Regions from separate parts of the Homo sapiens genome. Here regions 1, 2, 3, 4, 6 and 7 are each reported to be linked to region 5. The links are microRNA targets in miRTarBase. Many come from high-throughput screens and were not tested one by one. Region 5 holds a microRNA gene; each other region holds the end of a gene's coding sequence.

Region 1 (4,072 bases), not on the chromosome of region 5:
CCTGTCTTAACTTCTGCTGAACCCCCAGGATGTTTCTTAAGTGGAAAATTCTAAGAAGCCTCATAAAAACATATAAAATAATCTTTTGATTTTTTTTTCATAACTTTGTTACAATTGAAAGTGTTTAAAACATGTGCAAAAATTACTGTTGACTGATTTTGGTATATTTTTAGGGATGCCTCTTTAATGGCAATGAGACGGCGTATCAATGGCTTAAGTCCAGAAGAAATCCGTGCACTTTCTAAAGAGGAACTTCAGATGCCTGTTACCAAAGGAGACTTTGAATTGGCCCTAAAGAAAATTGCTAAGTCTGTCTCTGCTGCAGACTTGGAGAAGTATGAAAAATGGATGGTTGAATTTGGATCTGCTTGAATTTCTGTCAGCTCTTTAATTTCTGGTATTTTTGTTGATAAAATACGAAGAAATTCCTGCAATTTTTAAAAAACAAGTTTGGAATTTTTTTCAGTGGAGTGGTTTTCGCTTAAAGGAAAAAAAAATCTAAAACTGCGAAGAATACTAAATGTAGTTGAGAAATAATTGATGGCGAGAGTTTGCTAGTCTCCCTCCCCGGCTTTGTGCTGGTATTCCACGTATTCCTGCATTAATATTGCACACCCAAACCAGTCTATCAGGGAGGCTGAAGCAAGGGCGCAGTGTGATATTTTAGGAATACAGAAGATTTAGAAATACCCCTATTTCTCATTTGCAGTTTTTTTTTCCAATTCTGTGCTCTGTCAACATGAGGGACCTATCTATGTATGTTGACTTTTAACATCAAAATTGGATTTGTGTCAAACATTCATTGTTAAGAGAAGAATGACAGTATATTTTGGAGGAAATAATGAATTTACTAATTAAACCTTTAGAATTTATGACTTACTGTTAGAGTCTGTCATATGGTTAGAATTTTTACTTCCGCTACCCCTGCCATTTCTTCTGCTAGCTACTTCATAATATCTTGAGCTTTACTGAGGAATATTCTCACGCTCTGTGGTATTTGAATCATTTTGCCAGGTCATTTCTCTGTCTTTAGTATTTTTTGCTGGTGCTTCTTACATTTAATATGGAAAGGTGGGAAGAATATTACTGCATTAGATGTAATTCTTCATTCTAGACTTCCAAGTTTGTTTTCACTTTTTTGTGTGTGCGTGAAGGAGTCTGTGTCACCCAGGCTGTGTAGTGCAGTGGTTGATCTTGGCTCACTGCAACCTCTGCCTCCTAGATTCAAGCAATTCTCCTGTCTCAGCCTCCCAAGTAGCTGGGATTACAGGTGCGCACCACCATGCCTGGCTGTGTTTTCACTTTTCTTTCAACATGTTCAACCAGATATATAGCCATTATTTTTCTCAGCTCCAGCATTGTTTGATTTTTCTTGAGTTTGATTTTAGTATTTGAGATAAATACTTTTACATTCTAAACAAGTCCACTCTCTGTGGCTAACGCAAAACAAATGAAATCTTTATTGTTTTCCAAACAGCTAGTTTAACAAAACAGCATCATACATAGTGAATGATGTTCATTGGAAAATTCTAAAATTTGTCCTTGTCTAGGTTGAGAACTTTTACACACACTAAGATAAAGATAGAAATCTGACATGCTCACTCAATTCAGCAGGAATTACACATTAGAAAGAAGCCAGAAAAATAAATGGCATATATCCAATCACAAGTAAATGATCCTGGCGTTAGTTTTTATGATTACATGTGTCTCATTAGGCAATTTATGCTTTAATGGTCAAGCTTTTAAAAATTTGTATTTGATAACATCCTGAATTCTCAGTTTCGAATAGTGCCTACTGGTTTAAAACTAAAAATAATACAGCTTTTTGGACATTTAACCAAGATACTAAGAAGGTTTTTTTTAAAAAAAGAGATTTGATTATTTTTCCCTGCTAAAAACTGTAAATGCCTTATGTTCTTTTCAGATAACTTAAGTCTGACCTAAACTCCAGTATTCATCTGATGCTGTAAATTGCCCTTCTTTCTGAGACACAGATTATAAGATGCCAGATCATAAGACATCATGATTTTATTGTAATTGAATTCTTCCTAAAAATTGAGAGGTTTCCTTTTATTAACTTTTAAAATAAAGAAATAAGTAGTTTCATTACGATTATTTTGCAAACTATTGCCAGTCAGAAATGCACTTTTTTTTTCCCTGAAGTTTTAGGAGCCGTCACTAAAACATTAGTCTTGTGATTGTTAAAACTTGTTTGTAATGGGTTGGTGCAAAAGTAATTGTGGTTTTTCCATTACTTTCAATGGCAAAAACCGCAATTACTTTTGCACCAGCCTAACAATAGTTGATTAGTTAGACCTTTTCTGGGTTTTGTATTGATTATCTTGGTGTGCATTTAATTATTTTTCTGAATTCTTCATGGATAATGACATAGTAATTGTGATTCTTTTAATACCAGTTAAGCAGTATTTGGCAACTTAAACTTCCTGGGAGCCTAACTTTACTATGTTAAGTGAGTCAGGTGTGCTTTTTATTTCCCTTGTTTCTCATTTTGCCCTGTCAGTGGATGGTAGATGCTTTGTATATCTTAAATCCCTTAAAGGATCTTAAAGACATCCCTCAGGTGTTCTATTTAACTTTTATTTTATTTTATTTTATTTATTTATTTATTTTGAGACTGAGTCTTGCTCTGTCGCCCAGGCTGGAGTGCAGTGGCATGATCTCGGCTCACTGCAACTTCTGCCTCCCAGGTTCAAGCCATTCTCCTGCCTCGGCCTCCTGAGTAGCTGGGATTACAGTTGCCGCCACACCCGGCTTATTTTTTTGTATTTTTAGTAGAGGCAGAGTTTCACCATGTTGGCCAGGCTAGTCTCGAACTCCTGACCTCAGATGATCCGCCCACATTGGCCTCCCAAAGTGCTGGGATTACAGGTGTGATCCACCGCACCTGGCCCTAACTTTTAATATACAACACACACACACACACACACACACACACACACACACACACACACACACACACACACACTATTTCAGAAGACAGTGTGTTGCCTTACCCAGAATGAGTGCTAGGATTACAGGCGTGAGACAGACACACATACACACACATACACACACACAGAGTCTTTATTGCAGAAGACAGTGTGTTGCCTTATAGGCGTGAGACACACACACACACACACACACACACACACACACACACAGTCTTTATTGCAGAAGACAGTGTGTTGCCTTACCAGAATGAGTGCTTGGATTACAGGCGTGAGCCACTGTGCCCAGCCCTAACTTTTAATGTACATCACACACACACTCACACTCACATACACACACACACACACACTCTGACTGTCTTTATTGCAGAAGACAGTGTGTTGCCTTACCCAGAATGAGATTGAATTGTTTTGCTTCGTTTTGTTTTGTTATTCAGTGTTGCGGTAGCAGATGCATTATCAAAGGAAAAATATTTGGCTCCTTTAATTCCTCTGAAAACATGAGTATTTTGAGTTCTGCAGCACAATGACTGTAGGACTAAGCTAAGTCTGCTTTGCAGATATCTGATCAGATAGTCCCTTCATTCTGTAGACGTGTATTGGTTGGTCCAAGACACAGTGAGTAGGAGCTCTGTGGACCAAGACAAAGCTGGACTAGAGAGTACAGTTCAAACTTGGCAGTTTCTCTAACGACTCTGTATAGCTTCTGGCTTCTACTACTGAAACAAGAGTTTAGATCACTGATGGAGAGGCATAGTAATCTGTTTGTGCTTTGGAAAAATATATAAAAGTTTTTTTCCCCTATTTTTTGCACTTTAAATCTGTTTTGAAATTAGAACTGATATACATTTATTTGAATAATGTGTAACTATTATGGATCTATTTTAATGAACAATTTTTACCATTTCCCAAGCTGCCTGTTTATTATAAGCATGACATGTTTACTATAAACCTTTTGCCCCCATAATTTCTTTTTTTAAAGGAAATTAATATTAGTAAAATAAACACCTCTTTAATGGAAGCTGCAACCTTCTAGTGATCCAAGTAGACAATAGATGGTGGCATCACAGACTTTATCTACACACTTTCGGGTCTGACCACTACCTCCCACAATACCTAGCCAT
Region 2 (4,071 bases), not on the chromosome of region 5:
AAAAGAACTTTTAACATATGCTTTATTTTTGCCTTAGTACCAGCACTTGGAAGTATATGTGCATGTACAGATACTCATATACACAGAGGCAGTCCAAAAAAATAGTATATTTATTATTTTATTTATTCTGGTAGACCCCAATATTCTCAGCATGCTCTTATGTTTTATATACTATAGACTCATTGTCTGTATGTGTGTACTTTTTGAATCTCATTTTCATTTATAAACATGAGATTTGCAGCATCACACAGGGACAAAGTTTATGCTCTGGTTTGTTTTCCTAGACTAGATCAGATAATACATCTTAAATAAAATAGAAGAAAAGCATATCACATATTTAAACCATTAATGACAACAGAAAAACAGCAAGGAAAAAATCCCTGGCCTCAATGCTATTGATTAGTGAGAAAATAACTGGGTATTTTGTAGCATTACACTAGAAAATCATGAAAATTGTGGTTACTGAAAAAAAAAGGACTCAATATGTTAGTATCTCACTCAAATGCTTTTAAAATTTATATCATTTAATTGAAAAATGCCCTGAACATTCTTACTTCCTTTTTGTGTATGTGAACATTTTCTTCTTCATTACAGATTTCCATCATTTGAAACTTTTAATACAAAGAACTGCATAGCGTATAATCCAAATGGAAATGCTTTAGATGAATCCTGTGAAGATAAAAATCGTTATATCTGTAAGCAACAGCTCATTTAAATGTTTCTTGGGGCAGAGAAGGTGGAGAGTAAAGACCCAACATTACTAACAATGATACAGTTGCATGTTATATTATTACTAATTGTCTACTTCTGGAGTCTATAAAATGTTTTTAAACAGTGTCATATACAATTGTCATGTATGTGAAACAATGTGTTTTAAAATTGATGAAATTCGTTCACCTACATTTGAGAATTATAAAATTAACATAAAGAATTTTGTATTTTCATTTAATGTATATATTTAATGTTAAATTCAATGTAGTTTTATTACACATTTATGTAATTTTATTTACATTCTTGCTAATTCTCAGCAGAAATTTAAATAAGATTTAATTCACATCAAATAAAATTTAGAAAATAAAATTTAACTCACACTGCCCAGGCTGGAGCATAGTGGCAAGATCATAGCTCATTGCAAGCTCAAGTGATCCTCCTGACTCAGCCTCCCAAGTAGCTAGGACTGCAGGCACCATGTCACTATGCCCGACTAATTTTTAATTTTTAATTTTTTGTCAAGACAAGGTCTTGCTATGTTGCCCAGGCTGGTCTTGAACTCCTGGCCTCAAGGGATTCTCCCACCTTGGATTCCCAAAGTGCTGGGATTATAGGTGTGAACCACCATCCCTGGCCCTCTTCACATTCTTGTATGAAGATTGATTTGGGAAAAATGCATTTCAGGTAACTGACAAAAGATATAGGATGAAAAATAATATCTTTCAAATGTTTAATTTGAACTAAGAGAGCTTATGCATTGCACTTTCTGGAGATTTGTAATGTTTTGGTTTTGTTGTCCATGTGACTACAAAATAATATATTTTTTAATTAAAAAATTTAAAATAATACAGGCAAGCATGTAATGATTATCAATATTTTTTTCCACCAACTATCCTATACCCCTGACCTCCTTTCATTAGGCATTATCTTCTGTTTTGATTTTAACACTTAGAGTGGTTTTCTCTGTTATGAATCAAAGCTGATCTATTTTCATCATTTTTGTGATGAAAAAATTAATTTTGATTGACTTAGGATGGAAGGATTTGGACTGGGTGTGGTGGTTTATGCCTGTAATCGCAGCACTTTGGGAGGCCAAGGCGGGTGGATCACTTGAGGTCAGGAGTTTGAGACCAGCCTGGCCAACATGGTGAAACCCTGTCTCTACTAAAAATACAAAAATTGGCTGGGTGTGGTAGTGCACACCTGTAATCCCAGCTATTTGGGAGGCTGAGTCGAGAGGATCGCTTGAACCTAGGAGGTGGAGGTTGCAGTGAGTCGAGATTGCACCACTGCACTCCAGCCTGGGTGACAGAGCCAGACTCCTCTCCAAAAAAAAAAAAAAAAAAAAAAGATGAAAGGATTTGGAACCTTAATTGCATCTGAAAAACTGCCTCACCTTTGTTATTTAGTGTACTCCAACCACGGAGTAACATCCCATCATAATCCCAAATCCTACTCAAACAAAAGGGGAAGGGATTATGCAGGTGTACACTAGGCCACTGGTGTACCAATTAGAAACCACTTTAGAGTTATGCCTACTGTACCCACATAATCCTAAAAATATGTTACAACTGCTACTTCATAGTTTATGCCACTTATTTTATTTTTTACTTTTATTATTTTTTTTTCTGAGACACGGTTTCATTCCCATTGCCCAGGCTGTAGTGCAATGATGCAATCATGGTTCACTGCAGCTTCAACTTCCCAGGCTCAAGGGATCCTCCCACCTCAGCCTTCTGAGTACTTGGGACTCAGGTGCGAGCCATCATGCTCAGCTAATTTTTTGTATCATTTGTAGAAATGGGGTTTTGTATTGTTGCCCAGGCTGATCTTGAACTCCTGGGGTCAAGGATTCTGCCCGCCTTGGCCTCCTAAAGGGCTGGAATTACAGGCATAAGCCACTGTGCCCGGCCAGTTTATATAATTTAAACACTGCCTTTTGGTTCCTTGATTCCCATATGCTAGGACAAGTAATTATTATTTTATTTTATTTTACTTTAAGTTCTGGGTTACATGTGCAGAACCTGCAGGTTTGTTACATAGGTATACATGTTCCAAGGTGGTTTGCTGCACCTATTGACCCATCATCTAGGTTTTAAGTCCCACATGCATTAGGTATTTGTCCTAATGCTCTTCCTCCCCTTGCCCCCCACCCCCCGACAGGCCTTGGTCTGTGATGTTCACCTCCCTGTGTCCATGTGTTCTCATTGTTCAACTCCCACTTATTAGTAAGAACATGTGGTGTTTGGTTTTCTGTTCCTGTGTTAGTTTGCTGAGAATGATGGTTTCCAGCTTCATCCATGTCGCTGCAAAGGACATGAACTCATTCTTTTTATGGCTGCATAGTATTCCATGGTGTATATGTGCCATATTTTCTTTATCCAGTCTATCACTGATGGGCATTTGGGTTGGTTCCAAGTCTTTGCTATGGTAAATAGTGCTGCAATAAACATACGTGTGCATGTGAGGACAAGTAATTATTTTCTGTTTTTCTCAATACATTAATTATTAGTTCCTCCGTTAGTTGTGAAGTCCTAATTAGGGAAAAGGAGTTAGGCTGGCGGGAGCAGGGAAAAGCAGAAAGAGAAAGCAGATAAGCTATGAGTCTGCCTTTCTTCATGGTCCAGGATATGGGCCATGTGCTAAACTATTACCAGACACCTGCAAGTTACCTCACCGCAACCTTGGCATTATCAGTACTGGACAAAGCCCTCTGCAGCATACAGCATAAACACTATTCCATAAAATCCTAAGCAAGCCTTTGTTTCTTTGCAGTCAGCTTTTCTTCTGCTGATGCTGCCTGTTGCCTCCCTGGAAACATATTTTCCTACTTTTCTTTAATAAATCTGCCTTCCTTTACCTACAGCTGTCTTGGTAAATTCTTTTACCTCAATGCCACCGGCCCAGGTAGCCGTTGCTCACCCACAACATTAGTGTATTAGTCCGTTCTTATGCTGCTACTAAAGATATACCCAAGACTGGGAAATTTATAAAATAAAGACATTTAATTGACTCACAGTTCTGCAGGGTTGGAGAAGCCTCAGGAAACTTACAGTAATGACAGAAGGGAAAGCAAACACATCCCTCTACGCATGGCAGCAGAAAGGAGACGTGCTGAGCAAAAGGAAAAATACCCTCTTATTAAATCATCAGATCTAGTGAGAACTCACTCACTATCATGAGAACAGCAAAGAGGTAACTACCCCCATGATTAAATTACCTCCTACCAGTTCCCTCACATGATACGTGAGGATTAGGGGCACTACAATTCAAGATGAGATTTGGGTGGGGACACAGCCAAGCCATATCAGTTAGTGACATCTGTATTCTCATATTGCATGCATAAGAAAGTGAGTTATT
Region 3 (4,077 bases), not on the chromosome of region 5:
GTTCAGTGATGTATCTCAAACACACTGAACAGAGCCTGGCACACAGAGATGCTGAATAAGTATTTGTTAAATCAATCCTCAAAGTATTCGTTGCAGCATTATTGAAAACAACGGATTGGACATGACCTAAATGACTAAGTGAATACAGCACTAGCACACAGACGTGAAAAAGACTGAGGTAGAGGAATGTGAAATGATCTCCAAGATACACGGTGCAGAAGAGTGTGTTTAGCAGGCTACTATTTGTACAAAAAAAGGGTAAAAAGTCGTGTGTGCACGGATATAAACAATCTTTCTGTAAGAATGCAAACTGGGGCTGGGAGGAAACCTTGCTTCATTTACATTGCGTACCACTGTATATTACATACCCATCACATACACATGAGCCTGTGTTGCTGTTCAGTGGTAAGAAATCATTTAAAAATAGAAAAAAGAAGGAAGGAGGGAAGAGAGAAAGAAAGAAAAGGAATAAAAACCAAGCAGGGGAAGAGCCAGGGACCATTTGGTCAGCCTGCAATCCTCCCAAAGTGCGACAAGGGAGTTGAGGTCGGAGGTGGGGCGCGTGGGGGAGGAATCCGACCACCAGCTGTGTGCCTTCGATGAGCTTTCAACAAGGGTAACAGCAAGCTGCTCAAGACTGTAGGAAACACAGGGCTTCGCCGCGACCACGGTCAAGACGGCACCGGGCCTTGGGAACAACGTGAACAGAATCACCCAGGAAGCCGCGGGAGCGCGCGAACACGGGAGAAGGGAAGCAGGTTGCCACAGAAGAGCAACCCGAGCGGGGCCTCAGGGCAGTCGCACACACGAGGTTCCGAGCCCCCGGTGTCAGCGGCATCCCAGGGCCCCTCCCGTGTTCGGAAATCGCCGCAGCCTGTGGGAGAGCCACTCACCCCTTGCAGCGGCCGGGAATTCTCGTAACTCGCTCCGCACGGCTTCCAAAGCCGCCTCCGCCATGGCTGCGTCAGCGCCGGCCGAGACCCCGCCTTTCCCCGACGCCCCGCCGCAGGCCACACCCCAAGCACTCGCCCCGCCCTCCCCAGAGTCCCCGCCGCAGGCCACACCCCCAGACCCTCGCCCCGCCCTTCCAGAGGCACCCGCCGCAGGCCACACCCCCAGCACCCCGCCCCGTCCTGCCCCTGGACACACACCGGGTTCTGCCACCGAAGCGGTGGAGCGACTGGCAGCGCCCGCTTCGGCCTGCCCCACTGGCCGGCATCCCAGGGTTAACAAACAATTGTGTTTATTGACAAGTTCATACATCAGTACAAACGGGCACGTTAAAAACAGCGCCCCCGCCCCATGCAGCCGAGGATGAGGCAGGAAGCGCCGCGACCTGCACAAAGTATAAAAGTTATAAATAAGGGGCTTTCAAAACAAGGCGGGGGCAAATCTGGAGTGGGGCGGCGGTTGCCGGTGGCCTCAGACATGCAGAAGGGGACGGGGCGCCGGCCGGGCCACGAGGCCCCCCACCCACATGGGGCAGAGGGCAGGAAAAGGGCGGCCACATTCTCACAAACTTCTGGCGAAGGGTAGCTCCCTCCTCGTGAAGGACCTGGCCCAGAGGGCGAACCTGAGTCCCACCTGCGGTGGGCGCGGCTGGTGTGGGAAGTCGGGGCACAGCAGGCACGGGCCCGCCCCCGCCGCCGCGGGAGTTCCAGGGCCATGCGGGTGGCGATGCTAGAGGAGTGGGGAAGGGCCAGGTTTGGAGCAGCTCAAGCGCACTCAGGCTGATGCCCCGGAGCTGGGAACCTTTTGTAACCCTTTTTCTTTTTTTTTTTTGAGATGGCGTGTAGCTTTGTCACCTAGGTTGGAGTGCAATGGCGCGATCTCGGCTCACTGCAACCTCCACCTCCACCTCCAGGGTTCAAGCGATTCTCCTGCCTAAACCTCCCGAGTAGCTGGGATTACAGGCGCCCACCACCACGCCCAGCTAATTTTTTTATTTTTAGTAGACAGGGTTTCACCATGTTGGCCAGGCTGATCTCGAACTCCTAACCTCAGGTGATCCACCCGCCTCGGCCTCCCAAAGTGCTGGGATTACAGGCTTGAGCCACCACACCTGGCCCAGAACCCATTTCTTTATAAGCCTCTGCCTATGGCGCAGCAGGGCGGGTGAAGGGGCTCTCGTGGCCTGAAGCTGTGGTAAAGCTGCTCTGACTTACCTGCAGCAGAGGGGAGCAGTAGGGCCCAGAAAAACCTTTCCTCAACTCTTCAACTGCCTCACGACATGGTCCCACTCTACCTCCTAGGGTCCCCTATCTCCTTTCCCTCACCCCTAATTACTGCCCTTTTACATTCTAACTTATCCCCTCACCTCTGCCACTTACCTGTCCCATCTACCACTTTTCTAGTGTCTCCTTTGGCCCCAGCACCTCCCTCCTCTCAAACTCCAGTATCCAGCACACCCGTGGGTGCCCAGCACTGCCTTTGAGGAGGCTCCTTCTACCTAAACCAGGTGTCCTATGGGCTATCTCGTATCAGCTAGGCTGTGGACACCAAGAATCCAGAATCTGGGTTCACTTAGTGTACTGCACCCCTTTTCTGCTCCCTGATAGGTGTTCCACATAAGCCAGGGTGGTGAAGCTGAGGCAGGATGTGAGGAAACCAGGCACACAGCAGCCAGCCAGATACTCTAGCAACCAACACTCAACAGCGTGCTGTGCAGGTAGGTGTGTGTGTGTACATGTGTGCACGTGCATGCGTGTGATCTCATCTGTGGCTGAGGTCCTCAGGAGGTAGGCCAGCGCCCCGTAAACGAGGGATGTTCCAACACAGGCTTCTGACTAAGCATCATTCAGGATGCAGGGAGAAGGTGGCCTCTGGGCTCCAGCAGCCGGCTGGGGTCCAGGGTGGAGGACAGGGAAGAACAAGGGGCTGAGGAAAGGAGGCCAGAGCTTCATGTTTGCCCAGGTGAGGGCTTACTGTCCTGCAGCAACATCCCACAGCTGGCTCAAGTTCTGGCCAGGAGAGTAAGGGGTCACAGGGAAATACAATGCTGGGCCCCTCTTGGAGGGAGAATGGGAGTGGAATGTGCGGGCTCAGGTCCAAATACCAACTCAAGTCTCCTGATGGCTGGGGACACCCTGGAGGGCCAGATGGCTCTGCCTTTCTGAGCTCCAGGTATTGGGGAAAACCACCCTGCTCTGGCAGCCACGGGAGTGCAGCTGGTGTGAGAGGGGAAGTGCAGGTAGAGGTGAAGGCCCACAGTTGGCTGACGGGCACTGAATACCACATCACCTCTCACCTCGACCCCAGAGTACCCTGTGTATGCTCCACCACAGGGAGCTAATCCCTGCAGTAATTTCAAATGGCTTCTAAGAGAGGGCCAGCCCTTCCCAGATTCCTAGATGGGGCAGGCTGCCCTCCTACCTCTCACAGCACCAAGATGACAAAGACCCAAGACCTGTCCCTGCCACTGGAGGGGCTGTGGAGGCAGGAGTTCCAAGGAAGTGAGGCAACAGTCAGGGAAATAAATTAATAAATACAGGCCCCCCACGAGGAGCGGCTGGGAAGGCTGCTTTGCCTCTGAACACTGCTCCCTGCTTTCCACTCCAAGCAGCCCCGCAGGTTTTGGTGAGGGGCAGAGGGGCTGCAGTTTGGAATCGCTGGAGCATTCATTCACTTGGGACAGGCTTCCAGAACTCAGAGTTTGCGTTCCATACGCCGTTCCACGGCTCGAAGCAACAGTTCTGAGTATTGCTCCAGCAGGGCCTGTGTCTGCTCGGCTCCCACAGCCCCAGGGCTGCTGCCTGGGCTGGACAGCACTGCCCCAGCCACAGCTTCCAGCTCCTGTCGCACTGAAGAGAAGGTGTCTCTGAGGAGCTGGGCAATCCGACTTTGCTCTGCTGAGGGCATCTTGCAGCCAGCCACCTGAAATAGCACCCCCAGAAGTGAGGTGGAGGAGCCTGTCAACAGACATATAAAAGGGAGGGGCCCCACCTGGGTCCAGCCTGCCTCAGAAGGGACTAGCTGGGAACTCTACCCGCCAAGATCAGCATGTATGGCCAGGGAACATGGGATGCAGGCAGACTCTGGGGGTGACGCCCAAGGAGGAACCCATTGGATTGCAGAACC
Region 4 (4,077 bases), not on the chromosome of region 5:
GACTCCGTCTCAAAAAAAAAAAGATGTTTCATAAGTATTTGTTGAATGAATAAATGAATGAAACGGGCCAAGTGTGGTGGCTCACACCTATGCTGTAATCCCAGCACTTTGGGAGGTTGAGGCAGAGGATCGTGTGAGGCCAGGAGCCCAAGACCAGCCTGGTCAACATAGGAAGACCCCCCCACACACACCTCTTTACCAAAAAAAAAAAAAAAAAAAAGGTGCTTCAAACACCGTGACACGAGAGAACTAGAAATCATGGATGGTGAGACCAGTGACACAGATCTGGAAATGTATGGCTTCGAGTCCATATGCAGAATTCTTCCGTCCTTCCAGTGTCTTGCTTTTTACACAAAATATGCCCCACCCCACCTATGGGCAGGACTGAGAAGGCAGGAGTTCCATCAGCAGCAGGAGCCTTCCATTTGTCCTGCTTTTTTTGTTCCAGATGAGACAAAAGGACCCAGTGAAAGGAATGACAGCAGATGACTAAAGCCGCCTTTCCCCTCTGCACTGTACGTACCAAATTTCTCACTGTGCGTGTCACAGACGCTAAAATCAGTTTGGGTTTCAAGGCCTCAGCAGCTCACTATGGAGTCAGAAAACCTATTCCTCCTTCCCTCTAGTAATGATGGTTGCCACGCTCGATAGCTCTCCACTTCCACTAGGAGATTATGGCCCTTGGGACATTTCAGGGACATTTTCCAAAGAACCACCCAGATAGAGACAATGGACAGGGAGGGGGTGGTGGATATAGAAGGGGAGTTCATCTGCTGCGAATCACTCCTCCTGTCTGCCAGCTTGATCCATCTCAAGTTGCAGCTGTCATGTTGGGCACTCCCTGGCCTTCCCACGCCAGCGCCAGCTCCCAAAAGCTGCCATTACCTGCCCTTCCCCCTTGGAAAACTTGCTGGCCAGACAGCTTTTGTTAGCACCCACTGTTGTCTGGTGCTTCATTTCCTTCTTTATACCCCCGATCCCATACTAAGCTGCCCTCATCAGAGGTGGCATCTTTCAGATGCTGGGAGGGTGTTTCTGCCCAGGTCACAGGGCCAGATTGGGGGCCCCTTGTTTCATGTTGTCACTTTTCCCCAAGCCCCCTCCTTCCGTTAACTCTCGGTGCTGGTTTCCCAGTGCCCTGTACACCACCCGAGTCATGGGATTCCAGCAGCTCAAAGCAGTCTTAATCACTGAATGAAAAACCTGGCTCTGCTCCCAATTAGCCTCAGAGAGAAAATTATTTTTACAAATAAAAGCTGGCCTCTAACCCTACGGGCAAGGAGGGCCAGGGTCTCACCAGGAGTGACGGCAGGCCCTGCTTACTCTCCCTGCCCCATGTTCCCAAAGCAGCCTCGGGGAGGCTGGAGGGTGGAATGAGGCGGACTGCTGTGATGCCAGCTTCTCAGTCACTGCTCTGGGCCTCAGTGCTCTCCCCCACTCCCTTCCCCACCCACCCACTGGCTTCCCTCCTCCTCTTGAAATTATCCATTCAGGACGATTTACAGTGTTTCTGTTTTCTCCTCTTGCTTCCTTAATACTTTCATTTTTCTTCTAGTTTTGCAAGACAGTGGTCAACAGGAAGACCCAGCAGCTCCACCCTCCCAAGTGACAGGCCATTTTCGGACGCAGCCGTTCTGTGCCCATTCTTCAGGCAACTTTCGATTCCTTACTGTAGCTAATTCTAGATGCCCTTCAGTATTGTGAACAAATAGACCGTCTGGTGTCACAGAGCCCGCGTGTGCAGGAGCCTGCTCCTCCGAGATACGTGGCGTGTAGGTTGCTGTAGTTACAGCGCCTCCGTCTCTCTCCATTGTGTTCCGATCCATTTCTGTGTGTTCCCCCAACCTTTATTTCCAAGTGACATTTTCAGTCTTTCAAATAGCTGCCTTTTGTGATGTGGTGATTTAAATGATTTAAGTTCATTTGTTCTCAACCTTGGGGTAAACTGAGGTATTTTGCTTCCTGGGAAGATCTTCGCAATTTTGAGTGCTCCTGTGGGGAGCGGGGATGAGCTAAAGATACAATGTTTCCCTGCCCCGCACCGCTTCCACAAAATAGCAATGTGGTTTTGCAGCTCTGACTTCTGCTCCCAGTAACCCATCGTTAGGGCACTCTAGCACTATGGAGGTACCCAAGGCTCAGCCAGTCTCTATTTAAGAAAATTTAACAAATACGAGTAACCCTGTCCCAATCACTGAATCTCTAGTTACTACTCTTAGAAACACCTGTGGCTTCTTGGCCCTCCTGTTGCCCGCTCTGAATCTCTCTGCAGTCTACAAAATCGCCCCAGTCAACTCTCCACTTGGAGGGAATTGTCCAGTGTGGCCCCTAGAATTGAGTCACCCCCTAGATACCAACTGTCTGACCCCGAGGAGCTCTGTAAGTCCCTGCTCCTCCTCTTCCCTTTGGGGCTGGTGCTGCCACTCAGCAATAATCCTCTTTTCTCTGTGCTTTCTTAGGTCCCTGTCCTCTGTCTTTGAGGCTGGTTAGGAAGCAAGAGTCCTGATCTTTCATGCTGCACAATATGAGCATGCAAAAAGCTTTTTCCAGCAGAACATGTTCCCTCGTCTCCAGTTGCCGGAAAGGAATTTGGGGATCAAGAACTTAGCTCGTCCTACCCCCATGTTGAGTTCTGCCCTGGAAAACCCAAAGCAAGTAGTGATCATAGTACAGAACCCGACCAAAGTAGGCTGGTGAGGAAGTCCAGGCTCCAGGGGAACAGACGCTGCCCAGTGTTCATAGCTTCCTGCAACTTGACAGAGCCTGAGTTTGCCTCTTAGTGGGAGAATGAGAGAGAGCTGTAGTGTCACCTGACATTCCCCAAACCTTGTGAAGCACGTTGGCCTAAGTGTGCCGTGATCCCAGCCCACACTAGCCTGGGTGCATCTGCTAATGGGAGACCAAATCTTTGTCCGGGAAGCAAGAAGTGGGTGGGAGAATGTATCCTGTTTTTGTCAGTTTGTTTGCCTTACTCATTTCTAAGTGCAATAAGGGAGTGTCTCACAGGATTGCACCTGTGACATCCTGATGGATGCTTCCCTGTGGCCCTCCTGGGGCAAGGGTGGACAGACTCAGACCCCCAGCATGGTTAGCGCTGACCTTCATTGAGGTCCCTTTGGAACCAGATGTCTTGTTACAGACACCTTCCTCTGTGTAAGTCTCCTCACCTTGAGGGGTCTTTAGTAATGCATCTGGGTAGCATCTCAACTGCTGGTAGCATTTATCTGACTTGGAAAGTTGGAGAAGAGGCATTCCTACTGGAGAAAAATGTCAGTGTTTTCCTATAAGCTCTGTGTTAGCTATTCATTATATTTGTGCTTAAAGATGTTCCTTCATTCATCAACTAGGGGAAGTCCAGATGCGGGTTATCTTGAAAGAAACAAACTGACATTCTAGGCAGACAGTTGTCTATGTGGTCTGAGGGTCAGCAGCTGTTAGTCTCCTTCCTTTGGCTCTTGAGACCCACACATATCACTTTAGCCCTAACAAGGGCTCCTCCCACCTCCACCTGTTGCCCCAGTTGAAAAGCATCCATTATGAGCTGAGGTCAGCCTGGATCTGGAATTGCAGCCCACATAAACATAAAGGAGGATGTCCCTGGTCTGTTCCATCCCCACGGATGGTGTTGCTGCTGGGCAACAGTGTTGGCTTCTTTTAAGTACCCCCTTTCCTCCTCACCCACCTCCAAACTGACTAGCACTCAGAGGGACTTATGATAAAGGTTCAGCTCCAGGGGTAGTACCTGAGTGTGTGCCATGCCCCTTCAGACCAGCTGCTTCCATCAGAATTCCAGGGTCACAGCCCCAACAGAAGCAGCAGTGCCTCTGTAGGAGGGGTGCTGGGCTCTGGCCTTCTCATGCAGAGAGGTCCGGGACAGGGTCAGTATCGTGGGCATGTGTATAGCTTCCCAAGTTCTTTTACAGTCCCTGCTGGGACTCCCTGACTTACTTTGGTTGGTTCCTAGTGCTACTTGTTTTACAAACTACACTTTGTAGAATTGATTAGATTACCTTGTTTATTTAATGTGAGTTTGTGCCTTTTTGTCTCAATCTTCCAATACAGGTATATTGAGAAAAA
Region 5 (4,077 bases):
TTTCTGACAACAGAAAGCGCTTTCCTTTGTAGACTCATAGCTTGAGATCTTCTTGCTCCAGCACTCTGGGTTTCGTGTTGGAATTTTCTTTGACCAGGTTTAAATGGACAGAAAAATAAAGATGCATTTAGTGGCCCTGTTTGCATGTTTTCTGGAATCCAGAATAAAACGCCTGAAAAGGACCATCTCCAGTTCCTTGCTTCAAAGGCTCAGCAGGTTAGCCTTGTTCATCAAGGGACAATCCTCCCGAGTTTTGTTCTCAAACAGAAAAAGCAATGCCTACTAGACATACCTTATACTTAACCAAGAGAATTGGACTGGATTTCCAGAGAACAGCAAATGGATTCTGAGCCAAGTGTTCATTTGAGTTCCAGTGCGGAGACACACAGTCCCATTGGAAACATCCAAAATGTGATCTAAGATGTTGAACTATATACATTGTCGCACACACAAACATCCTCCAGGATAGACCACAGGCTAGGTGGTAAAAGCTCCTCAATAAAATTTGAACAGGAATACACAAGTACCAGTTGGGTGTGGTGGCTCATACCTCTAATCCCAGCACATCAGGAGGCCAAGGCAGGAGATTCACTTGAGCTCAGGAGCTCAAGACCAGCGTGTACAACACGGTGAAACCCTGTCTGTAAAAAAATACAAATGTAGGCCAGGTGTGGTGGTACATGCCTGTAGACACTAATTCAGGAGGCTGGGGTGGGAGGCGAAGGTTGCAGTGAGCCAAGACTGAAACACTGCACTCCAACCTGGGCGACTGAGCCAGATCTTGTTGCAAAAAAAAATTTAAAAGAACACACAAGCAAAAACCACCCCAAAGTGATATCAGTCATCTCTGTGTGTAGAAGAGTATTTTTTGTGTATATAATTATATATATGGCTATATGATGAAATATACATCATATATAATATATATATACACACAAACACACCCATATATATATTTTTTTTTTTGAGACAGAGTCTCTCTCTCTATATAAATATATATGTATATATATATTTTTTTTTTGAGACAGTCTTATTCTCTCGCCCAGGCTGGAGTGTGGTGGCGTGATCTTGGCTCACTGCAACCTCCATCTGTCCGTTCAAGTGATTCTCCTCCCTCAACTTCCCCAGCAGATGGGAATACAGGCGTGCGCCACCATAGCTGGCTAATTTTTTGTATTTTTAGTAGAGACAGGGTTTCACCATGTTGGTCAGGCTGGTCTCAAACTCCTGACCTCAAGTGATCCACTCGCCTCAACCTGCCAAAGTGTTGATATTGCAGGCATGAGCCACCGCTCATGTCGTATACACACAAAAACTGCTCATATACTCATGCGCCTGGCTGTACATCATTTATTTTCCAGACCCTATCTCAAAAAAAAAGAAAGTTCCATATACTGTATGCTCACATAAAGAATTACTCCTACACATAAATGTTTGCTCCACACATAAGAAATGAATGGAGTGACAGAGATCACCATGGCCCCTGTGCAGAGGTGATGCCCAAATTCATGATGGGTCTCATATTGAAAATTAAGATCAAAGGCCGGGTGCAGTGGTTCATGACTGTAAACCCAGCACTTTGGGAGGCCGAGGCAGGTGGATTACGAGGTCAGGAGATGGAGACCATCCTGGTCAACACGGTGAAACCCCATCTCTGCTAAAAATACAAAAATTAGCCGGGCGTGGTGGCATGGGCCTGTACTCCCAGCAACACAGGAGACTGAGATGGGAGAACCACTTCAACCCGGGAAGGGGAGATTGTAGTGAGCAGAGATCGTGACCCTGCAAAGAGGACCACCTGAGCCCAAGAGAGCTAGGTTGGAAGTGCCACTGCTCTCCAGCCTGGGCAAAAGAGACCCCGTCTTAGAAAACAAACAAACCAGGAACAAAAGCCCACCCTCATCCAAGTCTGATGATAAGCACGCTCTGCAAATGTATTGCCGAGATCAGCATGAACGTTAACGTTGCTTTTCTCAAACTGTAATCCTCTAAAAAGATGCACTTTCTTTTCTTTCAGACAACAGAAAGCGCTTCCCTCTAGAGGGTCACAGGCTGAGATCTTCTTGCTCCAGCACCATTGATTTTTTGTTGGAATTTTCCTTGACCAGGTTAAAATGGACACAAAAATAAAGATGCATTTATTGGCCCTGTTTGCATGATTTCTGGAATCCAGAACATAAACCCCTATCAGGGCCATCTCCAGTTCCTTGTTTCAAAAAGCAATGCCGACTATACATACCTTATATTTAACCATGAGAATTGGGCTGGATTCTAGAGAACAGCAATAGATTTTGAGCTAAGTGTTCACTCGAGTTCCAGTACAGTGACACACAGTCCCGACGGGGGCATCCAAAATGGAATCTACGATGTTGAAGAATATGCATTGTCACACACACAAACACCCTCCAGGAGAGACCACAGGCCAGGCTGTAAAAGCTCCTCAATAAAATGAGCAGAAACACACAGGTACAGGTGAGGTGTGGTGGCTCACACCTCTAAACCCAGCCCTTTAGGAGGCTGAGGCAGGAGTATCACTTGAGTTCAAGAGTTTGAGACCAGCCTGGGCAACATGGTGATACCTCATGTGTAGAGAAAACAGAAAAGTTAGCCGGGCGTGGTGGTGTGCGCCTGTAGACAGCTACTCAAGAGGCTGAAGTGGCAGGTGGAGGTTGCAATAAGCTGAGATGGCACCACTGCACTCTAGCCTGGGTGACAGACCCAGACCTTATCTAAAAAAAAAACAAAAACATACACACACAAACAAAAAATTACCCAAAGTGATACGAGAGTATTCTCTGTGTATAGAAGAGTGTTTTGTGTGTATATGACTATGTTACATGTATAATAAGAATATGATAAAATATATATTTTTGAGACCGTACATCAATAAAAATTAAGTTCCATATACTATGTGCTCACATGAAAAATAATTCCTACACATATGTGCTTGCATTGGCAGCACACATTAAAAAAAATTGGAGGCTAGGCTGGGTGGCTTACACCTATAATCTCAGCATTTTGGGAGGCTGAGGCAGGCGGATCACCTGAGGTCAGGAGTTGGAGACTAACCTGGCCATCATGATGAAACTGCATCTCTGCTAAAAATGCAAATATTAGCCAGGCGTCGTGGCACGTGCACCTGTAATCCCATCTACTTGGGAGGAGAGGTTGCAGTGAGCAGATAACATGCCACTGCGCTCAAGCCTGGGCCAGAGACAGAGACTCTGTTTCAAGAAAAAAAAAAAAAGCAAGCACGGGACCACTTGAGCCCAAGAGATCTAGGTTGGAAGCGCCACCGCACTCCAGCCTGGGCAACAGAGACCCCATGATGCAAAACAACTAAACAAAAACAGAACCCCAACATCATGCAAGTCTGATGATAAGCACGCTCTGCAAATGTGTTACCAAGATCAGCATCAACTTCAACGTGGTTTTTCTCAAACAGTAACGCTCCAAAAGAAGGCACTCTGCTTTCAGACAACAGAAAGTGCTTTCTTTTGGAGAATGACTGCATGAGATCTTCTCGCTCCAAAAGTCTGGGTTTTTTGACGGAATTTTCCTCACCTGGTTAAAATGGACACAAAAATAAAGATACATTTATTGACTCTCTCTGCATGTTTTCTGGAATCCAGAATATAAACCCCTAAAAGGACCATCTCCAGTTCCTTGCTTCAAAGGCTCAGCAGGTTAGCCTTGTTCATCAAGAGACAATCCTCCTGAGTTCTGTCCCCAAAGAGAAAAAGCAATGCCTACCACACATACCTTATATTTAACCATGAGAATTGGGCTGGATTTCTAGAGAACAGCAATGGATTTGAAGCCAAGTGTTCACATAAGTCCCAGTACAGGGACACACAGTCCCCATGCAAGCATCCAAAATGGAATCTAAGATGATGTTTAAGAATATACACTGTTGTACACACATTCTCCAGGATAGAACACAGGCTAGGCCATAAAAGCTCCTCAATAAATTTTTTTTTTTTTTTTGAAACAAGTCTCACTTTGTTGCCCAGGCTGTAGTGCAGGGCCGTGATCTCAGCTCACTGCAAGCTCTGCCTCCAGGTTTCCAGCAATTCT
Region 6 (4,077 bases), not on the chromosome of region 5:
TATACATTGTATAAAAGCAAGGATAAACAAGGAAAACAATTAACTATCATTGGCTATTTTATGCCCAATTCCACAAATGATTTTACTAAACACAGAGGACATTTGATGCAGCTGAGAAAGGATCTGAGGGCCAGAGTTTGTCCTTAGTGGGAGAATTTAAAAGCTTGCACTGAACCAGAATAAATAAGTACAATGGCAAGCAGGAAGATAAACCACAGGAAAACAGGACCAGTCCCTGTAGAAGTTCCAGACTTTTGAGGTATGTTCAGACAAAGCTGGCTATTAGACCAAAAATAAGCTGCCCCTGTTAACAAGTGCTTCCTGTTCTTGTCAGGTTTGGAGGTAGTGGTTACCAGGGCTCGGTCCTGACAAGCTGCTGCTCTGTGGGCCAAGCTTCCCCTTAGAAGCTCTGAGTACCTCTGAGCCTGTGGGAAAGGTCACAGTAAGAGTTCTGTGCAACCACCGTCGGTAAAACCTTTGGAGAGGCAGATGTCGACTATAAGCTCCCACCTCAGAGAGCAGGATGAACCTACCCAGATGTTTCCCAGGCCAGGCCTTTAGGCCTCTGGAAAACAGCTGCTGCCGCAAACACAGCTCCACAGCCTGCTGTTGCCTCGTGCTAAACCCAGCACTAGCCACTGGGGAGCAGCCTGTCGCTGTCCCACAGGCCTGCGCTAGCTTCCAGGGAATTCTTGGAGCTGTACTAATACTGCAGAAAAACTAGTTTAGCCTTGGCTTTCAGAAGATGCCAGTGACAATGGAGTACATTGCCCTAAAGCAGTATTTTCAAAATGTGCATTGTGGAATCCATTTGGTCTAAGATCAAAATAAATTTTTAATGAAACAGAAAAAGGTCAGAGTGCATCACACATATCATGGATAAACCAGATTTTGGTTTCTAATACCACTCCCATTAAAAGAAGCCAGGGCTCCTTGCAGAAATAGCTGATTCCAGGGCTAGGGCAGGATAAGCACAAGATAAGCCTGAAGCATCTTGTTAGGATAGAAATAAAAAAGAAGTACTCAAAAAAAAAAAAAAAAAAAATAGCATATCACCAGGATGTAGGAGCCAGCTTGAAGGGTCTCTTGTCTAGCTAAAGCTGAGACCATTTGTGCACCAAAATAATGAATTGGAACCACTGAAAAAGGCCAGGCTTGGTGGCTCATGCCTGTAATCCCAGCACTTTGGGAGGCCAAGGTGGGGGGTTTGCTTGAGCCCAGAAGTTTGAGGCTGCAGTGAGCTAAGATTGTGCCACTGCACTCCAGCATGGGTGACAGAGTGAGACACTGTTTCAAAACAAAACAAAGCAAAACAACAGTCCATGAGTGTATAATGAAAATTAAATGAATAAATTGGGAAGGAAGGGCTTCTGCTTATAGTAGATTACCAAGTGCAACCTGTAAAGCTGGAGAATGCGCTAGAATTGGAAAATCATTTTGCAAACATAGTAAAAGATCAGTGCAGGTAAGAAACATCAATGCATGCTAATTTAACGGGACACTTTCATAGGCAAGAGATTTGCATGGTCTGAAAGTCTACATATACTGGTTATAAGTTCCAGGTAGGGGGATATACAGAGAAGTTGGACACCTTGACCAAGTGATCAAAATTTACCACTATCAATGAGGGGGCAGATGGATATCAAGTCATTATGGGCAAAAACACATAAACTGATTCTAAATATGAGGAAATATCAAACTGAGTTGTTTTCTGTTAAAAAAAAAAAAACAGGGTGGGGTTGGGGGTGGCTACATTCACCAAAAATATCAATGAGGCTGAGTGCGGTGGCTCACACCTGTAATCCTAGCAGTTTGGGAGGCAGAGGATGGCGGATCACTTGAGATCAGGAGTTGGGAGGCAGAGGATGGCGGATCACTTGAGCTCAGGCCTGGCCAACATGGTGAAACCCTGTCTCTACTAAAAATACAAAAAAATTATCTGGGGGTGGTGGCGGGCGTCTGTAATCCCAGCTACTCCGGAGGCTGAAGCAGGAGAATCGCTTCAACCTGGGAGGCGGAGATTGCAGTGAGCCGAGATTGCACCACTGCACTCCAGCCTGGGTGACAGAGCGAGACTCCGTCTCAAAAAAAATACATATCAATGACATAAAAGATCAAGATGAGTCATGACAGCCATAGCCATGTCTGATTCTATACTGGAAGGTTTACTGGAGGGAAAAAATGCTACAAAGAACATCACTGGGCAGATGCCAGGTTAAAGTATCAAATCCATGTTTGACTGAAGTAGAGAACTGTCCTACAGTTGTGTAAGAGAATATCCTTATTTTTAGGAAATAAGCATTTAGGAGGAAAGGCCTATGATGTACGCAATTTACTCTCAAATGCCTCAATTTTTTATGGAGAAGGAGAAAGGGAGAGAGAAACCCTGACAAATCAAATGGGACAAAATGTTAATAAGTGAACAAGAGGGGAATCTGGGTAAAGTGTGCGTGGGGTTTTTTGTACTTTCAACTTCCTAGAAGTTTAAATTATTTCTCAATAAAATGTATTTTTAAATTCCTCCAGTATTTATAACTAAAAATGTCCTGGGTGTATTCCATCAGCATTCACAGAAATACCCAGTTGAATACCTGCCATCCACACGGGCAGATCTCCAGCAATCCTGAACTCACCTCTGCTCTCCACATGACATTTACACTGAGTTGCCCTTCCGAAACTGGAAGAGTAGATTAAGCCCTTGAGTCTTCGATTCACTTCAATGAATAATCTGGTAAAAACAAAAATCTAAGTGTGACTTCTACTTGATAAACAGCTGTGATGTAACTGGGACAAGATCAGTGTGGAATTATCCTTTTTATACCAATTCTGTACAAAGAGTGCAAGAACTGATGCTTTATATTTTATTTCCCCTCTGCCCTCCCATCCCACCCTTGGTGATGGTTGTACCCATTTGAGCATTTCTGAGCACATGACCATAAGTAAATCTTGAGAGAGGAGCGGAATTCTTGTCTAAACAGTAACAGAAGGGGATTAGCTGCAAGGATAGCATAACTGTTGTGCAGGAACAGAAGCTGCCCAGATCTTCTTGGTGGACAATGCATAGAAGACTTAGAATTATGGAACATCGGTCCCCCCAACCACCCTTTCCCACCCGTCTCCCAAACCCCCACTCCCACCCTATTCCCCACCCCATTAATAGTGTTAACAAAAGCTTAATCTTCCAGTTTTAAAGTGCAAATGATTTGGGTATGACTGCTGTTGCAACAAGTCTGAACAGAAAAAAATGAAGTCTTCTCTGTTTATACGATGTTTTCCAGAATATAAAAGATGAGTTCCATGACAACGGGGCCCTCACTAAGCTGGCAGGCCCCTCCATGGATCACCGGCACCAAGGCGCTGTCCAGATCATTCATGTACTGCGAGGGAAGGGGCTGGCCATTGCTCCCTGCTTGATAGCCAACCTATACCACAGAGAGAAAAGGAGGAGAGGTTACTGAACAGAGAAGGCCTCTCCAGGGCTGAGGGCAAGGAGGCTGAGCAGGAAAGGAGATGTCCTTTTTGGCCATAGGCTAAACATATGGCAGTGAATACAAATTTATCCTCTTTTCTGGGTGATCACTTATCCTGTTGTTTACTCCTCCTGACCACTTGACAACCATGAGGCACTGGGTAAGCCACTTAACCTGTTATGGTCTTAGTTTTCTGGGGAAGGGTAGAGGTGTGTAAAAAGGTATGGAGTATCAGAAATAATACCTTAATCTTTGGTTGTGAAAATTAAAATGAGAAATACACAATGTACAGCTCCCTAACCTAGTAGGAACTGAATATTTGTTCTTGCATCCATCTGTTCATCCATGCACCATTCTGAGCAACTACAAATGCAGGGATCCAAAGATGAATGTAACAGGGCCCTGCCCTCAAGAGGCTCACATATTTAGCAGAAAAATGCTTGTTCTTTGTTTTATGTGAGATAGGACCAGAATACTTCATTAGTATAGCATTGGGCAAGCCGTTAAGCAGAAAATAAATATTTGTTGATTGATGACTAGTCAGGAACTGGGGCCAGACACAGAACCTTTCATCATTCCCTGATAATGGCACAACCCTGTGATCAGG
Region 7 (4,000 bases), not on the chromosome of region 5:
GAGAGGAGGATGGAGAAAGGGGAGTTGGAGGTGGGGGCTGCAGGGACCGAGGAGGCATGCTCTGGAGGGCTCAGAACAGAGAGAGCTGCTCTGACCTGGGCAAAGTGGCCAGCGACAGTAGTGTGCAACTAGGCTCCAAAGAAAACAATTTTTGCCATTTAGAGGTGTGGATGGGGGTGGGCATAGAATAATCCAAATAGTAGCTGTCTGGAAGTCATGCAGGGAGGCCTGAGAGTGGGTTCTCCCTCTGGCCACCCCCTTGAACACCTCTGAAAGTTTAGCAACAGCTTCTGTAGCTGGCTGAAGGATCCAGAGCTTATCTCAGGCAACTCGGGCAGACTGTCCCTGCAGGAAATACAGCTCTCTCTAACCCTCACTGACAGATTTTATGGCCAGATTAGCAAACAGCGGAAAACTTGGGTGTTAAAAGGGGCCCAGAGAACCCTCCTTTTCAGAGACATCCCTCCCCCGCCCCCCTGTCCTGCTGTGAATTTAACAGCACGGATATTTTACCCACGTCTTTGGCTGCTTTAGCTGAGCGCCTGGAATCTTCCAAAGAGAAGGATAGGGAACACCAAGCCAAGTTGGTTCTTATTTTTCTTGTTTGCAATTCCAGCTTCGAGCCAAAGCTCTGTTTTTCAAACTTAAGCTAAATTCTCTTTCTTGGCCTCTTTCCTGCTAGATAAATAACAACCCAACCCAGCCCCAGAGCCAAACATGGTGCTTCATCTAGTTATATCATTCAGAAAATGTTATTCAAGGAAGAAGAGAGAAAGAGAAAGAAAGAAAAACCCTTGAGCGTTATTTGATCCCAATCAAACTTTGCACGCTCTTATGCCTTTAAATTATAGCCTGACCCAATGCTAAATTGCTTGCTGCTTGGATGAGTCCAGTTAAAATCCTACTTGGTGGTGGGGAAGGGGGAGGGCGTAGAGTTCAGGTTGCTTTTTTATTGTTATTTATTGTTGCATAAAGACTATAATTACTAACCTTGGACTGCCAGGATGCAACATAAAAATGAAAATCAGCCCTCTCTTTAAGGCAGGGCCTGGAACGATTCTCACTCCCCCAACATCACTACCACCAAATATATGCTCCTAATTAAGCAATGCGGGCACATCGCTTACAATTAGAATTATGCAGCTCTTCAGCAAGCAGCCATCGCTTCTCTTTCAACGAATTAGCTCCATATTTCAGCCGCCCTGTCTTCTCGCTCTTATCGGCTCCAGCGACTCGGCGGTGACATTTCATCTTTGACAGACCTTCTCTATTTTCACTCCAATGTGATAAAACTTTTATGGAACCACAACTAAGAAATGAAGTTTTCCCAAGGATGATGGAAACAGAGCCGCACATTAGCCTGGGGACCGTTTTATTTACGCTTGGATCCAACAGCTTCTCCCACCCTCCTCTCCCCTTTCTCTGGCAGGGGAAATCGAACGTGCTTCCCCTCCCTCCGCCTCGAGTTTTATTTAGTGATTTAATTTTACTTAGTTTTAAAGTTTGACCTGAGAAGTCTAGGCCTCAGTTTTGTTTTTTTTTTTTTTTTAGATTAATCATTTTTCTTTGTTTTCATTTTAGACCCAATGGTGGTTGGGCTTCGGGTCACGTGACACCTTCTTTGTGGCTCCGGAAGAGGATTGTGAAGTTTAGGTTTCGTGGAAGAAACCGTAATCGGCCAGATTTTCTTGGTGGTGGTGGGAAGGGGTGGGGGGTGGGGGGTGCATGGACGCTGTGGCCAAAGGAGCTAACAGACGAAAGGTCAATGAATGAAAAACCTAGAGGCATACAGGCCAAACAGAAAAACCTACAGAGAGCATCCAAGAGTCCCCCGTTACCTCCCAACTTGCTACTTAAACCACAGCTGAAGAAGTTGGCAAAATGTTACAGGCTCTTATGAGTGAGAAAATGGTATTTAAACTTAAGACATATCAAGGGGGAGACAGGAACCTGGGCAGTGGACAAAAAGGCCAGGGAAGGGTCTTCAGTGTCCTTGTCCTTGTCCTTCTTCCCTTGGGGGAAATTTGGCAGTCAGCAGCCTTGCTCTGCTATCTAAATTGGACCACCAGGACAAGATAAAATTGATAACAGAAAGTTTATTCAAGAATTGTTTGACAGACAACCCTTTTAGGTAAGGAAAAAAGTAACTACTGAAGAACAAAGAAAGTTCCAAGAGGGAATTAACTCTAGTTCTACAAATTCAGGACTATACAGTGACGATTAGGAGCTGAGTTCATGCCTTTTAGAACTAATTACAATTGTTCGTAAGTACGAGTTTAACATAAATCTACAGCTCTTTTCTAGAGTACAATAGTAACTAAAATAGCTGGTTTTACATGACAGGAAACACAATGTCCTTTGTAACAGGTAAATACTAAAAAAGTACAATTTTTTCCTTTTTTTCCCTCATATAAATACATAATGTAGGGGGATAAATAATACAAAAAAGAAAATATTTTAACAGGCTATAACCAATAAATATATATGAAAATGTTCACTAGAACACACGCTTTTTTGAGCAATGCTGGACTTCTGCAGGCCCAGACATCTCTCACAGTTGTTTTTACATCCATTAAAATGTAAATTCTAAGTGCAACAAAAGTGTCCTGTCAGGAGGCTGAGCAAGGCACACAGGCCCTGCCCAGCCCCTGCCTGGGACAGTTTGTTCAAATATACCCTGTTTTCACGTTAAGTCAAGAGAGCAACAGAAGAAAAGTATAGAACCTCGTGTCACCAACTGCTTTCTGTGGAGAGGGGGATGGAGCTGGAGCTGAGATGGAGGCAGCAGAATGGGCAAACCTTCAGTCCTAACAACCTGCCTGCCCTAGCCTCCACACTTTTCCTTAAAAAAAAATGTATATAATTTATAATATAGGCAGCTCTTTCAGGATCTCTCACCATCCCTGAGCCCTCTAAAAACTGTAATTGATGGGGGTGGGATGTATAGATATGAATGTTCTAGAGCAGAAAAACCGGGGGCTAGAAGTGTACCTCAATAAACCTCAAATGGGAACAAATTTGAGGTTTTGGGAAAGTTGGAAGGGAACGTGTTTTGTGCCTTTTGGGTTTGAAATGTGTTTTCTTATTTTTTAAAGGATAATTGAGGAAAAAAAAAAATCAAGATTTGGGGGGAATTACCTACAAAGATGTAAGGTAAGTCCGTTGGTTGGTGATGGCCTAGCCATCTTGTCTGGTTTTTAAAATGTGCTTTTCTGCCTCGTCCTGTCTCGTCTTCCTCTACCCCACTCCCGGGCGTGGAATTCCAACTTGGTAGTGCTGGAGCCCTGGGGTTGATGGGGTCATCTCCAATATGATGTGGATTCCTTTCCGATGGGTTGGCAGGCAGATGGAACAAGGGGTGGAAGACTTAAAAGCAACCTCTCAGGCCAGGGGGAAGGGAAGGAGCTCCAGGCCGGTTCTGACCAGGAAGCCTGGGTACCACCTTCTCTGGCTCCTCTTTTCAGACCTCCAGGTTGCCCCCCAGAGCTCCACAGTCTCTCTCTTCCTCCCCATCCCCTAATCCTCGTTCGCCCTTTCCCATCACAGGTGTGTTAATTTGGGCGCTTCTTGGATTCTACCCTGAGGAGGAGGCGCGTGGTGAGAGGAGAGGTCTGTGTAGGTGGGGTGGGGTTCGCAGGGTCCGTGGTGCTGGCTGGGCGCCATAGGGGGCGCCCCGTTGTAGTCCAGGTTCCCGGAAGGGTGATGGGAAAGGTGGTTGAGGCCATAGAGGGAGGGGCCGGCAGGGGGCGGCAGCGGATCCGCGTAGCCGCCCCCGCCCACGTACACCGGACTGCCCTGCATGGTGGGCGTCCCGTAGGCGCCCCCGTTGGCTTGGAGGACGTGCGGCTCATACTCGGGCGCCGGGGTCGGAGGGTACTTCTGCGGGGCGCCGCAGCCTTTGAGAGGGGGCTGGTAGTTGGAGGGCAGCGCGTAGGCATTCTGGTGGGCTTTACCGAAGGCGGGTGGGGACGGGCTCTCGTAGCTGGGGGTCATGGAGTGT

Evidence for each region. Region 5 holds the annotated microRNA hsa-miR-519c-3p (AAAGUGCAUCUUUUUAGAGGAU, at 1,984-2,005, opposite strand). A microRNA usually pairs through its seed, bases 2 to 8, with sites in the 3' UTR of a target mRNA and lowers its output. Matches are read on the target gene's strand: a 7mer-m8 pairs with bases 2 to 8, a 7mer-A1 pairs with bases 2 to 7 and ends in A, and an 8mer does both.
Region 1: miRTarBase lists KATNAL1 as a target of hsa-miR-519c-3p. Seed matches in the 3' UTR shown: 7mer-m8 at 2,142-2,148 and 7mer-m8 at 3,758-3,764.
Region 2: miRTarBase lists KLRD1 as a target of hsa-miR-519c-3p. Seed matches in the 3' UTR shown: 7mer-m8 at 1,470-1,476.
Region 3: miRTarBase lists MAPKBP1 as a target of hsa-miR-519c-3p. Seed matches in the 3' UTR shown: 7mer-m8 at 3,183-3,189.
Region 4: the mRNA of PITPNA is a reported target of hsa-miR-519c-3p. The part of its 3' UTR that is shown has no 7-base or 8-base seed match.
Region 6: the mRNA of ZFYVE9 is a reported target of hsa-miR-519c-3p. Seed matches in the 3' UTR shown: 7mer-m8 at 3,191-3,197.
Region 7: miRTarBase lists HOXB3 as a target of hsa-miR-519c-3p. Seed matches in the 3' UTR shown: 8mer at 2,588-2,595.

The regions. Positions count from the first base shown.
Region 1 is chr13:30,204,840-30,208,911 of GRCh38, reverse strand. It overlaps KATNAL1 (katanin catalytic subunit A1 like 1), which reads left to right. Exons shown (of 11, transcript NM_032116.5): 11 at 174-4,072. The coding sequence ends at 372. Among named protein-coding and RNA genes, the nearest start is that of LINC00385, 53 kb to the right of the region's middle.
Region 2 is chr12:10,314,079-10,318,149 of GRCh38, forward strand. KLRD1 (killer cell lectin like receptor D1) reads left to right here. Exons shown (of 6, transcript NM_002262.5): 6 at 595-4,071. The coding sequence ends at 715. Among named protein-coding and RNA genes, the nearest start is that of KLRD1, 8.2 kb to the left of the region's middle.
Region 3 is chr15:41,825,005-41,829,081 of GRCh38, reverse strand. MAPKBP1 (mitogen-activated protein kinase binding protein 1) reads right to left here. Exons shown (of 31, transcript NM_014994.3): 31 at 1,227-3,873. The coding sequence ends at 3,646. It overlaps JMJD7-PLA2G4B (JMJD7-PLA2G4B readthrough), which reads right to left and starts at 990. Exons shown (of 25, transcript NM_005090.4): 1 at 894-990. The coding sequence starts at 957. It overlaps JMJD7 (jumonji domain containing 7), which reads right to left and starts at 990. Exons shown (of 8, transcript NM_001114632.2): 1 at 894-990. The coding sequence starts at 957. RefSeq lists a silencer at 1,013-1,102 and enhancers at 837-1,131, 1,163-1,392, 2,438-3,320.
Region 4 is chr17:1,518,017-1,522,093 of GRCh38, reverse strand. PITPNA (phosphatidylinositol transfer protein alpha) reads left to right here. Exons shown (of 12, transcript NM_006224.4): 11 at 449-515; 12 at 1,556-4,077. The coding sequence ends at 493. It overlaps PITPNA-AS1 (PITPNA antisense RNA 1), which reads right to left. Exons shown (of 2, transcript NR_028514.1): 2 at 3,998-4,077. Among named protein-coding and RNA genes, the nearest start is that of PITPNA-AS1, 3.1 kb to the right of the region's middle.
Region 5 is chr19:53,684,450-53,688,526 of GRCh38, reverse strand. It overlaps MIR519C (microRNA 519c), which reads right to left and starts at 2,058; the gene lies at 1,972-2,058. It overlaps MIR515-2 (microRNA 515-2), which reads right to left and starts at 3,518; the gene lies at 3,436-3,518. The region is part of intron 2 of LOC107985342 (a long non-coding RNA gene); the gene reads right to left. It overlaps MIR1283-1 (microRNA 1283-1), which reads right to left and starts at 46; the gene lies at 1-46.
Region 6 is chr1:52,345,405-52,349,481 of GRCh38, reverse strand. ZFYVE9 (zinc finger FYVE-type containing 9) reads right to left here. Exons shown (of 19, transcript NM_004799.4): 19 at 2,848-3,422. The coding sequence ends at 3,261. Among named protein-coding and RNA genes, the nearest start is that of CC2D1B, 19 kb to the left of the region's middle.
Region 7 is chr17:48,546,794-48,550,793 of GRCh38, forward strand. It overlaps HOXB3 (homeobox B3), which reads right to left. Exons shown (of 5, transcript NM_001384749.1): 5 at 2,077-4,000. The coding sequence ends at 3,541. It overlaps HOXB-AS1 (HOXB cluster antisense RNA 1), which reads left to right. Exons shown (of 7, transcript NR_102279.1): 4 at 1,582-1,670; 5 at 3,096-3,153; 6 at 3,547-3,609. Among named protein-coding and RNA genes, the nearest start is that of HOXB2, 3.7 kb to the left of the region's middle.